Homo sapiens: one gene and its partner. The protein of the gene in region 2 purifies or fractionates together with the protein of the main gene of each other region. This does not show direct contact. Each region holds a gene or a part of one and is shown on either strand. Other genes may lie near its edges. The genes, in order: GLDC and SPATA13.

The links.
Region 1: the proteins of SPATA13 (region 2) and GLDC purify together in Homo sapiens (affinity purification with mass spectrometry; 2 studies listed by BioGRID and IntAct, with this or other methods). This does not show direct contact.

What each region holds. Positions count from the first base shown.
Region 1 is NC_000009.12:6,551,462-6,558,729, forward strand, and holds part of GLDC (glycine dehydrogenase (decarboxylating), mitochondrial precursor), read right to left. Parts: intron 7,224-7,268; coding exon 7,098-7,223; intron 4,842-7,097; coding exon 4,692-4,841; intron 3,321-4,691; coding exon 3,208-3,320; intron 2,049-3,207; coding exon 1,907-2,048; intron 1-1,906. UniProt on the Homo sapiens protein: The glycine cleavage system catalyzes the degradation of glycine.
Region 2 is NC_000013.11:24,155,561-24,163,763, reverse strand, and holds the start of SPATA13 (spermatogenesis-associated protein 13), read right to left. Parts: upstream 3,045-8,203; 5' UTR 2,832-3,044; intron 1,349-2,831; exon of another isoform or gene 1,260-1,348; intron 1-1,259. UniProt on the Homo sapiens protein: Acts as a guanine nucleotide exchange factor (GEF) for RHOA, RAC1 and CDC42 GTPases. Regulates cell migration and adhesion assembly and disassembly through a RAC1, PI3K, RHOA and AKT1-dependent mechanism.

The DNA of each region.
Region 1 (7,268 bases), on a different chromosome or scaffold from region 2:
AAGACTGCACCAATTCTTATGGCCTACTTTCTTCCCAGAGTACCTCACATGTGATGGAGTTGGCATATATATTAAATACATAACTAATGTAAAGAGAATGAGAGAGCACCAAATAAAACAACAGTAGTACTTTGGTATCATTAAGGGGGTCCAAAGTAAAAAGGGGCCACATTGCTCCAGGCTGGTCAAAGAAGGGTTCCTAGATTAAGAGCCAGAACTTGGCTAGAAACTTAGAAATAAGTAGAATTCGGATAGGGAAAGAGAAAGGAGAAGGTATACCAGGTGAGAAGAATGGCAGAAATGAAGGCGTGGAAGGGGAGGGCACATGACTGTCATCTGGGAGTGGATGTAGGGCAAGGTGAGTTGTGACTCCATTTTTAAGCCCAAAACTTCTCTAGGAAGGACTTCGACTTTGTCCAGCCAACCACTGGCTCTCAACCTATGTCTCATGGGGGGATTTTTTAAAAATGCAGACGGCTTAAGTCCAACCCTACATGTGCTCAGTTTGGTTCTCCTTGGAATGGGGCCTAGGCATGTGCATTCTGAAAGAATCCCCTAAGGATTTCGTGCAGGCTAGTGAGAACCAGGTAAAGCAACAGGAAGCCACGAGAGATACGTGGGGGCCTAGGGTGAGTCTAGCAGTCCTGTAGGTGCGCCTGTGGAATTGCAGCAGGGAGAGAAGCAGCTAAAGCTAGAGTCCAGGGGATAAGTAATAACAGCCTGAAATAAGAGAAGGCCCAAGGCCAGAGGGGGCAGCTTAAACCCTACTTTATTTATTTAGTTTTTAAACTGAGGCACCAGCTGTTGTTCCAGGCATGTAGCCAAACCAACCTTGGGGCATTTATTTCCTATATGTGGGAAGTCATCTCCAACCCAAATATGTTCATACAAATAACCCAGATTTACAGAACCCAGAGATCAAAAGGGAAGTGGAATTTGATTCTGCTTACAAAGAAGCAGACCTTTATTCTGATTGCTTGTGTTGTTTGCAAAACAACTTGAGTATCATTTTTAAAAGCAAGTGTTAGTGTCTGAGGTACAGAATTGTTCCGGCTTCCAAGAAACTTTTCGTGAAGAATCATAAATGCCATGCTGTTCCAGAAATAAACAGTCAGCTCCACAGAGTCCTCTGGAATGATTGGCATAGCTGCGTTTTGGGGGTTTTGTTTCAGTGGGAGCCCGCCTTCCTTTAAAGAGGGGCACTGCTTTGGGGAGACTGCTCTAATGAGCAGCCAAACAAGTGTTCTTATTCACAGTCTTGTCAGTCCAGGAGGTGGGCAGGGCAGTGTGAACAAGAACTGTAGAAAATCAACTCTGGCCCTGGTGTTATTTGGAATAAGACAAAGGAAGGAAGCCTGTACTCTGACTAATTACGCAGAGAGCACAGCACCACAAACCCTAAAGGCCAAAGAGCTCTGGGGAAAAACCAGAGAAGCAAATTTCTGCTATTTTTCATCTTCTCCTCTGGCCCCCCCCAAGAAATATATAGCAAAGTGAGATATATAGCAGGATCTCAGCAAAGTGGAATAATTAGTACATGCACTGCTTTTCACTCGGAAGGGGCTATATAAATCCTGCAGGAAACCAAAGGATGCGGCCAGAACATCCATATGACTCATGGAACTTAGCTGTGTCTGGAAAAATATATCTGATGTTTCAGTTTCTCTGATGTTAAACCCACTCTGAGAACCCAAAAGAAGTAGTGTAATGAAGGAGAGATGAAATGATTTTTAGCTCATCTCTTCAGGAAGGTTTCTTCCACCCAGGCCATCAGCAATATTCTTTGAACCACATCTCAGATCATGAATTTATTTGTTTTTAAGCCAAGAAGTCTGCAGTATCCGGTCCCCATGCATGCCTGACGCCCCCACCCACCTGCACACCTGCACATACTCCCAGGCCTCACCTTGATATAAGCCCAGGAAATGGGCAAGATGGAACTGGAGCCCCATGGGGCCGCACTGACGGTTCCCACAGGACAGGCATCCTCATTCCGCTTTAGTGAAATGACGGGATGATTGGGCAAAAACGGGGCGAGATGTTTCTTCCTGTATTTTTTTTAAGTGCAAATTCAGAAAATGTAAACGATTCAGTTTAATCTAATGGGAAGGTTCTGGGCCCTCCCAGAAAGCCTTGTTCTTAGCAGAGGAGCTCTGACAGTGGAAGGGACTCTCCACCTGCTGGGAGGCAGATGTTCAGGAAGCGATCCTTCCTTCCTTCCTCCTCTGGTGGAGGTCCACCAGCCATCAGTGTCCCAGGGCTCACCCAAGAAATGTGGTGGAGGGCTTGATAGAGGCAGGCAGCCATAAAACAGTGGAGTTCCATGTCCCTCCCTCCCACTCCCAGCCCCATTCCCTCACCCCTATACACTTTCCCAAGATGGACATAGGAGGGGCTGATGAGAAGATGCCCCATGGGCTGACATGAACATCATTCTCCCCACCTCCCTGACAGCTGAAGCACTGGAGCTCACACATTTACTAGAAATAATCATCATCAAAATGAATCTCACTTTAACCGTAGTCCAAGAAAAAAAAAACAAGAAAGAAGAAAAAAGTAAGAAGGCCAAGCTTCCAGCAACTCTGAAAACTGACTTCTTTAGCATATTTTTGGGAGACTGAAGCAGCTCAGGAAAACAGCTGCTCTCATCATCATTTTCCCAAGATGATTTGATTTCAGTGTAAAAAGTTATCCACAGCTAAGAAATATTCCTTCAGTCCTACTCTGGCTTCATCCAATTATTTCTAGTAACCAGGTTTGTTTCTTCCTTACTTATGTGTTACTTATCTCAACACCTTACATCTAATTCACTTTCAATGGAACCATTAGCTGATTTTAAAAAAGAAAAAAAAAATGCTAGGAAATCCAAAAGTCCGAAAGGCACTTTCTAGTGCCAATATTCCAGTTACAATACGTATGCTCAGGTGAAGTTCCCTATTCATTATTCTGTTAATAAACCTGCTGTCTATGTGCAACTGGAAGCTCAGTGAGGCCAGATGCTATGGTTAGTAAAATCTAATTACGCTTTTCTTTGGAAATCCCCTAAAAGCACCCATTTTGCTGCTCCTCCCCCAGCCCCTACAAGTGCACTACACCGATGAGGGTATCCTCAACACATGAAGACTTTGATGGGATGAGTAGTCTATTTAGGGCCACTCCTTCATTCTGTCTCCAAAGCCATCCTGAAACCAGCAGCCCAGAACTTACACTCCGATGGGCCCCATGCCAGGACCACCTCCTCCGTGGGGAATGCAGAAGGTCTTGTGAAGATTTAGGTGCGAGACATCAGACCCGAAGTCTCCAGGGCGACAGATTCCCACCTACCACAAAGGCAAGGGCCAAAAGCAAAAGTCAAGAGCTTGGAAGCACCCTCCAGTGTGAAGGCCATGGCTGGCCGGTGCTGCCTTCTCCCCTCAGAGGAAAAGCAGGCAGAGCCACATCCATGGTGTTCACAGAAATGTCCTCTATACTGGCCCAGTTCCGTAGTCACAAACTGGCATCCGATAGGCAGAGTGCTTGTGGTTGCTATGGAAATAGCAACTGACCATTTAGTCCAATTTAGATTTAAAAATATGGATTTGAATACACAGTCTCTTCCTAATTATCCACACACCACAAAGGGAGAGAAGTGTCTCTAACACAAGAAAGGGCAGAACCTCCATGTTGTTGAAATAGGCAACTCTTCCCTGAGCAGCGCTACCTTCCCCTGCGTGGTCGGCTTTAGTATGATGCACGTTACCGAACGGCCCCGTTGGGCACAGTGATGGAAGGGGCTGCGGGGGCACCAGGGAGGAGGCTGAACTGAGAGAGGGAAGGCAAGGCTCGCAGTCTTCCCGAGATGACCCAGATACCAGGCATGCCATCCCACTAGCCTTCCCACCACTTGGGTGTTAGGACTAATTTTGATGGTGACCAAAGGTACAGAATTCATTTATGCTACAGAACCAATAGACAATCTCTGGATTACACTTGTGAAATGAATGAGAACCAAAGAAAGGCTCTAAAATGGTAGGAAAAAAAAAAGAGGTCGGGCGTGGTGGATCACACCTGTAATCCTAGCACTTTGGGAAGCTGAGGCAGGTGGATTGCCTGAGCTCAGGAGTTCAAGACCAGCCTGGGCAACACAGTGAAACCCCATCTCTACTAAAATACAAAAATAAAAATAAAAAAATTTAAAAAAATTAGCTGGGTGTGGCAGCATGCACCTGTAGTCCCAGCTACTCGGGAGGCTGAGGCAGCAGAACTGCTTGAACCCAGGAGGTGGAGGTTGCAGTGAGCAGACATCGCACCACTGCACTCCAGCCTTGGCGACAGAGTGAGACTCCATCTAAAAAAAGAAAGAAAGAAAGAAAAAGGAAAAAAGCAAACACCAATAAGAGTCTCAAAAAGATTGTGTCACTCCTCTCCTGCAGGGGCTCCCAACAGCATTTCTTCAGAGGTTCACAGTACATAGATCCTCTGTCCCCCAAGTAATCAGGATTGGGCCCTTTGAGCCCCCATTTCACAGCTGATAAAGCTGATGCCAGGATAAGTGGCTTTCCAAGGCCATGAGAGATCAACAACCACCAGTGGTCAGGTCGTGGGTCTGAGTTCCCTCAGGCAGGAAGCCTCTCAAGAAGTCAGAATTTTTTTTTTTTTCCACATATCCATTTTCTCAGTGGGAACTAAGGGCGGGCCTCTTCAGTTCCCACCTGAGCATTCATATTTGCCCCGTCTAGGTAGACCTGTCCTCCATGTTGATGGATGAGGTCACACACGTCACTGATGTTCTCTTCAAACACCCCATTGGTGGATGGGTATGTAATCATGATAGCTGCTAGGTTCTCCTTGTGCTTATCCACCTGTGAAAGAAAAGGGGTAGAGAAGGACATGGAGGGAGGATATGTTTCTTTCTTGGCCAAATCCTCGCCTTTCATTTTAAAGGATGAAGAAAGATGAAGTCTCAGTCTTTACTTTCCTGGAACTGTCTCAAAGTACAATGACAGCAATAAAAAAAAACCACAGCCATTACTCCCTTCACAAATCATTCCAAAGAAATAATAAGATCCTGGCTGGGTGTGGTGGCTCATGCCCGTAATCCCGGCACTCTGGGAGGCCGAGGCGGGCAGATCACCTAAGGTCAAGAATTCGAGACCAGCCTGGCCAACATGGTGAAACCCCGTCTCTACTAAAAATACAAAGATTAGCCGAGCATGGTGGCAGGTGCCTGTAATCCCAGCTACTTAGGAGGCTGAGGCAGGGACAATTGCTTGAACCGGTGAGGTGGAGGTTGTAGTGAGCCAAGATCACACCACTGCACTCCAGCTTGGACAACAGAGAGAGACTCCACGTCAAAAAAAAAAAAGAAAAAAGAAAAAAAGAAATAATAAGATCCTTTCAGGCTAGGTCTCTATGGTCCAGACCAAAAGGACTATTCACAAGATTTTTGGATATTTTGGGCCCAACTCTCTAAGGTGGTTTTCCCTTGGTTCAAGTCATCTCAATAACGATTTCAGACGTTTGTGGTTCTAGGTGCGTCCATTCTCATAGTTAATCTCTCTGCTCATCTTCTCATATCCATTCCTTTCCCTTGCCTTCTGTTGAAGTTAAAATTCCCAAATTACAGCTAGATAGGAGGAGTAAGTTGTAGAGTTCTATACCACTGCAGGATGACTATATTTAACAATATATAATTTTGAATAGTTAGAAGGAGGATATTGAACGTTCCCTCAACACAAAGAAATGATACATGCTTGAGATGATGGATATGCTGATTACCCTGATCTGATCTCTATACATTTGATGTATAGAAACATCACTATATACCCCATGACTATGTACAACTATTGTCATTTAAAAAGATAAAGAACAGAGGCCAGGCGTGGTAGCTCACGCCTGTAATCTCAGCACTTTGGGAGGCTGAGGCGGGCGGATCATGAGGTCAGGAGATCGAGACTATCCTGGCCAATACGGGGAAACCCTGTCTCTACTAAAAATACAAAAAGTAGCTGGGCATGGTGGCACACGCCTGTAGTCCCAGCTAATCAGGAGGCTGAGGCAGGAGAATTGCTTGAACCCGGGAGGCGGAGGTTGCAGTGAGCCGAGATCGTGCCACTGCACTCCAGCCTGGGCGACAGGGTGAGACTCCGTCTCAAAACAAACAAACAAAAAGATAAAGAACAGGAATTGGAAAAAAAAAAAAAAAAAGAATTCCCACAAGAAGTGTTTCTGTAAATAAAAGTCTTCTTTATTCTTTCCTTTTACAGAAGGCAAGCATATATAAAAGTCACATCCCTGTTTGTTTTCCTGGCCAGCATATCAGAGCAGGCATGTTTGAGAACATGGGGGTGGCCAGGGAAGTCATGTCCTATATTACTATAATGGAGGGACTTAATAATTTCAACTACTGGCCTGGAACACTTGTTGGAAAAAAGCTTTGTGGAGCAATGGAAGGGTAGAGGTGGATCGAAGAGAGGTGCAGCATTGTGGATTTTCAGCTTCCTTTAGAAGGCAACTGCACAGAGTTCACAGTCTCCATGCCTAATAACACCACCATCAAAATCACATTGCTATTCCACTGGTTTCCTTCCCGCTTAAGATGCAGCTGCCAGTCCGCTGGTGGGAAGCAGATACGGTTGCTAAGCAACTTCTTCCTGGAGGTTGGGAGGTTGAGAGTGGGGGTTGGTGGAAACCAAGCTGCATGATGCCAGGAATTCAGCATGATGGGGCTGGCACAGTCATGGATATTTGCAAAGCTGACATTTGTGTTACAATTCCTGACACGAAGATGTGTAAGTGTGACTGCCATTTTGATTATTAAGTGGGGAAGGCGAGAAGGAGAGGGAAGATTGGGCAGAAAGAGGCAGGCAGGTTCTGCAAGGAGTACTCTTACTACCACCATGAATAATTCATTCAGTTTTTTACACAAGCTGGAATTAGAAAACGGGGATTTCTCCCTGTTGGTGATGGGAGGGGTAGAGTAGACTCTGGTCAAAGGAAGAACTGCAGACTTTTCATTAGAATGCAAGAGAAGACATTTACATAATCCATCAAGTCCCTGATCCCCACCAGCACTCCCCATCCCGGCCTCTCCCATCTGCTAAGGAGAAGACAAGTACCATGGCCTTGAGGTGAACTGCATCGATATTCCCATATTTATCCACCTCCACAGGCTGAATCTTCATGCCTGCCATGTGGGCACTTGCTGGGTTGGTCCCATGTGCTGATTTCGGAATGAGGCAAACCTACAGAATAGAAAGGAAGCAAAGAAAGAGCAAAATCATCATCAG
Region 2 (8,203 bases):
TAGAGCCAACTTTGTCCTGCTGCTTTCCCTTGAATATGCCATTTTATTTCCCTGGACCACGGTTTCCTCATCTGTAGAATATAAAGTCCCTTTCAGCTATCAAGGTGCATGCTCTGCTTCAGTATCTGTAAAGTAGAAATACTACTTGCCTCCAACTCTTAGGAAGATAAAGACTAAAAAAGAAATGTTTGGACAAGGCTTTAAGATTACATAATGAAATGGATATAAATAAGACTCATACAGTCACACAGCTAACAGAGACCATAAAGATCTGTCCAGCTAAAGTGAAACGGAACTCTCAATGCACGGGAGGAGACAGCTGGCAGTAGTCTTCTTTTTTAATTTAACTTAATTTTTTTAGAGACAGAGTCTCTCGTTCTGTCACCCAGGCTGCAGTGTAGTGGCAAAATCATAGCTCACTGCAGTCTCAACCTCCCAGGCTCAAGAGATCCTCTCACCTCAGCCTCCTGAGCACCTTGGACTACAGGTGAGTGCGCCATCACAACCAGCTGATTTCTTATTTTTATTTTTTAGAGATGGGGTCTTGCTATGCTGCCTAAGCTGGTCTTGAACTCCTGGGCTCAAGCAATCCTCCTACCTCGGCCTCCCAAAGTGCTGGGATTACAGGCATGAGCCACTGTGCCCAGCCAGGTCATTTTTATGCCACTTTCTTCAGGGCTTCCTGTGGCTAAGAGGGAAAGTAGACTGATAGCATGGATGAGGTGACAGCCCAGGCACTGGCCCCAGGCTTTCTGAGGGACAGCCGGCATTAGGTTTTTCTCCATGCACTGTCCTACAGGTATAGAATTCATGTCCTCCACTGGTGTACATTGCAGACTAAATAAAACATGTCATATAACAACCTCCTTTCCAAAGCTAAACTCCAGGCATGCCTGAGTTCAAGAGGTCACCCAGCAGGGAAGCTCCACTGTCTGGTGAGAAGAGGGCCTCCACTGCTAGGCAGTGGCAAGAAGCCATGCCGGTTACCTCCTCTGAGCCTTCCTTTTCTCATCTGTCAAATGGGGACAGTAGTAGATCCTACATTATAGGGATGTGTGGAGGATTTTAAATGAGTACTGATGCACGTTAAGCCCTCAGAACAGTGCTTGGCACACACCCAGAGTTTGGTAGATGCTACCTAACATCAATATTGACATTAATTCTAGAACTATGTAGAGGATACGACTTCAATAAGAAAACAATCAGTCAGAAGCAGTGGCAGAAGGGAGGGTCCTGAAATCCAGAGTCCTCCTGCAGAGATGCAGCTGCCACTCCTCGCCTCTGACACTTGCAGACATTCGGAGAGAAAGCCGTCTGCAAGGTGACAGAGGGCGGACTGGAAGAACACAAGGAACCCAGGGATGCTGATGGAGCATGGAAAACCGCAGCAGAAGGCACTGAGGCAAGGTGTGCCCTCCAGGCGGGGCAGGCTGTGGCTGGGCAGAGCGCCTGCCAGGGAGAAGTAGGGCAAAGGGAAGAAAGCACCTGTGGGAGAAACATGGGGAAACAAGGAAGAAACCTGCATATGCACGGGAGCACAAATAAGGAAGGAGATGGGAGAACTGGGTGGAGGCAGATGGCAAACGTGGGGGCCAAGGGAGGTAGATGAGAATTAGGATATGGGATAATAAGACAAAGCCACATGAAACTCTAAAGTGCGGGAGGAGGGCAGAGAACAGGGAGGGTGCATGACAGGCACCCCGAGAATAATGCAGTGAGGAAGTTTGCAAGACGGGGGAGGGGGACATTAGGAAAAAAGGAGAATTTGTTGGGAAAGGTGGAAAAAGAAAAGGAGTGAGATTTCTCCGCCTGTTAGCAAGGGGAATAAAGGAGAGCAAATCGCTGGGTGACCAGGAAAGGTTCACAGAGAAGAAAACACGAGGCAGCAAAAACCGAAGGTGGGGACAGAGAAAATGCTGGCAGGGGGAGGTGCATAATATAAGGCTATGGGAAGCCATGGGAACAAGAGCTGAATAAATTCACAGTATTATTCTATTTATCCACATCCCTATGCAATGCTGGGAAGCAAATGACCCACAGGGTTTTGTTTGCTTGCTTTGGTTTGGTTTTCCTGCACTTGGAGGGAGGGGAAATTTGCTCAAGCTCTGTAACCTTGCAGTCAGATGGGTGGCCCAGCCCAAGTCACCCGAGCTCCCCCTGACGCTGGCAGCAGCGCGGGCTTCTACCTGCCTGGGGCTGGAGTACCAATTCCCCCACCTCCTGCACAGAATGGGACCAAACCAACTCCGCCAATGCATTCCCTGCAGTCCACAGACGATGGGCACCGGGTCCCAAAATCTTTCCCCTGGGACGAGACTCCGCTGGTACCAAGAGAAACTTGCTTTCTAAACTAAGCTCTCCAACCGCATCGCTCCGGGTCCCCGGAGGCACCAGCCACGCCACCCGATGGAGCAGAGCGTTACAGGGCTCCGCCGCGCCAGGCTCCCCAGACTCTGCCACCCCCACGGCCGCCCCTGTAGGCCAGGCCCCGCGAGCTGGGAGCGCGGGTGAAGTTACAAGGCGACCTCCCTGCAGGCTTCCGGCTGGAAACGGCCTTTTGCGAGAACACCACGTGCATGTCCTCCCAAAAGCGATGGTGCCGGGTGGCCCAGAGGGCGCAGAGCCACCGCCGGGCAGGGAGCGGGCGCACGGACCTAACAGGTGAGCACCCGGTAGCCTCCACCGGCGGGGGAAGCAGAGGCCAAGCAGCTGGGAGCTGGACATCCCGAAGCCCCGAGGCAGTCCACTGGGACTCAAATCCTCCCGATATTCTACCTAACAGCCCATGCCCGCGCCCGCCCGGCAGAGCCGCGCGCCCGAAGCCGTCTTACCTCCTGCGGCGCCTCTTGGCGGAGCCTACAAAGTCAGCGTGTCCAACACGTCCCTGCCCTCAGAGCCACCTCCGGTGCCGGCGGAGCCCCGAGGTCGCCGCACTCTCGGAGGAGCCTGGGATCCAGTGCGCGCCCTCGGAGCTAGCGACCGGCAGGGCGATCGCGGGAGAAAGCGCAACGCACACTCTCCTCCCGCGCCGCGGCAGCACACTCAGCCAAGCCACGCCCCAGCCCCGCTCCCCACCAGGCCACGCCCCCAGCCCGGCTCTTCCCCCCGCCCCATATCAGGCCACGCCCCCGGTTAGCTCACTCCCTCAGGCCACACCCTCGGCCACGCCCCCACACTACCAACCACAGCCGGGGACCCCACCCATCAAAAACAGTTCCCCGGCCAGGCGCAGTGGCTCTTGCCTGTAATCCTAGCACTTTTGGAGGCCGAGGTGGGCGGATCACCTGAGGTCAGGAATTTGAGAGCAGCTTGGCCAACATGGTGAAACCCCGTCTCTAATAAAAATAAAAATTAACCGGGCGTGGTGACAGGCGCCTGTGATCCCAGCTACTCAGGAGGCTAAGGCAGGAGAATCACTTGAACCCGAGAGGCGGAGGTTGCAGTGTGCCGAGATCGCGCCACTGCACTCCAACCTGGAGGACACAGCCAGACTCCGTTTTTTAAAAAAAGAAACAAACAAAAATAGTTCCCTCAGCCACCAGCCAGCCCCCACCCCCCAGGGCGGGAAGAGGAGTCTCATCTCCGGGGCAACCGTGCCCCACTGCCCACTGCCTGGGCCAGAAGTTCACTCCCTGTGAAAGGAAAACGCAGGGTAGGGATTTTTAAACCTACATGTTTCCCAGGGCCTGGGGCAAGTCTTGAGTAGACTGTTGCAGTAAACCGACTCAAAGGCCTATCACCTTTCTTGTGAGGCTCAAGGCCTAATCATTAATTGACATGAAAACCACAGAAGAGAAGCAAACCCTTCTGTGCTGGGATCTGTGCCCCAGTGCTCCATGTTCCCTGATAGGCAGCTAATGGAATTCATAAAATAAATGCATGCTTTCTACCAGTGTAGTTTTTTAGATGATTCATTTAGTGGCCAGCACTATTATTTATAAATGTCTATTGTCTTTTATAATCAAAGAACAATACCCACAATCTGTAAAATAAAAAACAAAAATTATATTACCCAATGAAAAGTGAAAATTAATTTTATGTATGTTTTTTAAAATATTGAAAAAACTCTGTATGACATTATAATGGTGGCTTCATGTCATTATGCATTTCTCAAAACTCACAGAATGAACAGCATGCGGCGTGAGCCTCCTGTAAGTAATGGACTTAGTTCATCTTAATGTAACAACATGGGCCCATCAATCATAACACATGTGCCACTCGAATGTAAGATGTCAGTACAAGCAGCTGTGTGTGGAGGGAGGGGCGTGAGGGAGTACATCAGAACTCCGTGTACTTTCCATTCCTGTTTTCTAAACCTAAAACTGCTCTAAAAATAGTCTATTAATTAAAGCACACTCCAAGATTAATGATAATTATCTGTGGGTGGTGGAAATATGGGCAAATTTTATTTAATTCTTTGAATTGTTATTGAAATTACCCCAAGTTTTAACAATGACCATGTATTTTTAAAGCTGAAAAAATATAAAAACCAAACCTTGGAAAATTTTAGAAACATAGTATGTGAGGCTAATATCATTGACTGTTCCATTTTATTTCTACTCTATAAAAAATCTGCACAAAGCACTCACAAATGCTAAAATGAAATCTATGTTAGTATTATTTAAAAAAAAATATCACGGTCTAAATTGAGGGTTTTTTTATTATCTCTTTAGAATTAGCACAAATCTGAGGAGCAGATTTTGATTTTTCTTTTAAAAAAATTGTGTTTCAAAAGGTTATTTCTGCCTACTTGGAAACCACTATTAACATTTACATGCAATACTTTTTATAGTGAAGAAAGCACTATATTTGAAACTATGTCCTTGGGAAACAGGCCTGGCCCTCAGATGAATGGATTTCTGTGGAGTGATACCAACTAGACCTGAAGACCCCCGCATCCTTGAGGCCCTGTACAAGCCCTGGGCGAGTGCTGGACCTTGCTGAATCTCAGCTTCCTCGTCAGTGAGCCGGTGACAGTGGGACCTCACTCTGCATTGGGTGGAGAATTAAAACTTTAGCCCATGTAAGACTCTTACTATCTATCAACTTAGCACATACAGGTGCTTGCTGATTGTTTGTTTGTGAGTTTTAAAAAATATTTTTTTCAGGGTTTCAGTGAAAACCTTTTGAGCGCCTGGGATAAAAGATATGTCTGGGTTCAGATTACAAATCTATTAGAGGAAGGCAGGATGGCTCAAGAGAAAATTCACTGATCTGACATGAAGAGGCGGCGCAGTCCAACCTGGCTCTAACCAGCTGTGTTCATCACGGGAGTACATCACCAGCCGACGCTTATTCTTGCTTTTCCATTCTGTTAAGTCAGAGATTAGGACGAGCAATAGCTAAATTTCCTTCCATTTCTACCATTCCTGCGGGAATCACAATGTGGCCTCTGTGTAAAAGCCTAGGTCTCCCGCAGTGGCTTTCTGTCAACATGGCTCTCTATCCACATGGCCGCCATCACTCACAGCCTCGCAGACAAGGCCGGCATCTGCATTCTGTTGTTTCCTGCAAGTGGGAACCTCCAAAGGTCGGTGACCTCTTTTCTTCTCTGCTGATCTTTTGGTACTCAAGACTCTAACTGGAGCCTGAATATTCAAAACTTTCACCCAAGTTCGTCCTAACAACACTGATGCTTTCTGCAGGAGAGTGTCTAAGGATAGAAACTACCACCTCTCACTAAGTCTAACGCGCTTTTTTTGTTGTTGTTCCACATAACATCTCCAAAACTAGAATGTGTCTTTCCCTTAATATTTGTTGGACACTTATGCCACGTTGTTTACATTCATCATTTTCTTAAATCCTCAAGACAATCCTTGAGGTACAGTTATCCTTCTCATTTTATATATGGGGCAAATGAAGTTAGAAGGGTTGAACGAATCATCTGAGGTCACACAGCTGGTGAGCAGTGGAGCCAGGATTTGATCTCATGCTCCTGTTTGAAAATGCTCTGAACAAAGCAGTGCTGTGAGCTCCCCCAGGGTTGGGGAGAAGCAATGCTGTATTCCATCTGCTGAAAGTTCCATTCAGCAGGGGTTTCTCAAGAGGTACAGGGCAGAAAGGAAACTCCTTTCTCCTCATTTCAGTTTTTTTTCTTTGAGGAGCTCCTATAAAGTAACCCGTATGGCTTCCGCCCCACCCTCTACTGCAGAAAAAGGAGTTACCAGCCGGGCACGTGGCTCACGCCTGTAATCCCAGCACTTTGGGAGGCCAAGACGGGCAGATCACGAGGTCAGGAGATCGAGACCATCCTGGCTAACACGGTGAAACCCCGTCTCTACTAAAAATACAAAAAAAATTAGCCGGGCGTGGTGGCGGGCGCCTGTAGTCCCAGCTACTCCGGAGGCTAAGGCAGAAGAATGGCGTGAACCCGGGAGGCGGAGCTTGCAGTGAGCCGCGATCGCGCCCCTGCACTCCAGCCTGGGTGACAGAGCGAGACTCCATCTCAAAAAAATATATTAAAAAGAAAAAAAAGAAAAAGGAGTTACCTGACTGGTTGGAGAAATCCATTGGTAGACTCCCTTGATAGAATAACCTGATTTATTAATTTATTAACAGCACAGAGTATTCACTCTTTTTTAACCTTTCCGCCCAGACTACGGCTGGGAGAAATCTGCGGTCAGTGTCTGGATGCCACAGACCAGACTTTCACCTGGAGGAAGTAACTTAAGGTCTAGACCGGGTTAGGGAAGCAGAGGCAAAGGAGCTGGGAGGTCACTCAGAGATCATTAGCAACAATTGTGCACTCATTCTCCAGATGATTTTGTCAGTAATATCACTGACATTTTTATCTTCATCTAGCAGCCTCCAGCATCTTGTTGGTTGTGAAGGTGGCAGGGGACAAAAGGGGGTTGGTTGAACCACAGATGCCTCTGGCACATAAGGCAAGACCCAAGAGAGCAGGAGAGAACCTGAGCCTCTTCTGCTCTCTGTCCATGTGGGTTCTAGGAAAACTTCATAACCTCACTTTGACCGGCTCCTTATCTGTGATATCTTATGGTGAAAATTAAGTGTAATAATGTATGTAAAGTCCCAGCTCACTGCCTGGCACGTGGTCAAATGCTCAATAACTGGTGGCTATCATTGATTAGAATGGATAAGGTGCGTTTGCTATATTTTATTCTACAGTTTACTAGAGCAGATCTCTCTCTAATTTGAAGCTTCCTAGGATGACAGAATAATGTTTGGCATTTATCACATTATCTTAGCACATAAGTATCTATTTGGCTATTGGGGTGCTGGGAAACCCAATTAATTGAGGCACAGAGAGGAAAGCATTTTGCCTCCAGGAATGGGTCATCAAGGCCAAAGGACTAGAGTACAGATGGGGTGGGCCAGGAGCCAGATCCAGTGTGCCATCTACGGTGCCTCCCTGTCTGCTCGGAGACAGGGCCCCCATCACACCTGGGTTTGGAGGGGGGAATACGAATGGGCAGGGCAGCTACAGGCAAAAGAGGAGAATAAACGGTCTCACGCTGTCCTCACAGTTGCTGTGGACAACAGGTATGGCAATTCCTCAAAAATCAAAAAACTAGAATTACCGTATCATCCAGCAATCCCTCTTCTGGGATATACCCAAAAGAACTGAAAGCAGGGACTCGAACAGATATTTGTACACCCACTTTCATAGCAGCAGTATTCACACAGCCACAAGGTGACAGCAACCCAAGTATTCATCAATGGATGGATGAATAAACAAGATGTAGTAAATACATACAATGGAATATCACTCAGCCTTAAAGAGGAACAAAATTCCGACACACGCTGCAACACAGGTGGACCCTGAGGACATTACATTAAATGCATAAGCCCATCACAAAAGGACAGATACTGTAGGATTTCACTTATATGAGGTATCTGGAGTAGGCAAATTCACAGACAGAAAGTAGAATGGTGATTGCCAGAGGCTGCAGTGGGAAAGTGGGGAGTTACTGCTTAATGGGGACAGAATGTCAGTTTTGCAAGATGAGAAATGTTCTGTGGATGGATGATGGTGACGGTTGCATAACAATATGAATGTACTTAATGTACTGAATTGCACACTTAAAATTGTTAAAATGGTAAGTCTTATGTGTATTTTACCACAGTTTTTAAAAATGTCCCATTTTCTAATCTGCAGGCCAGAATCTGCAGAAAGCCATTGGGATTTTGCAGTAAAGAGCTGTCTCTGCCACTCACTGACTCTGGCTTGGTTCTGAAAGCC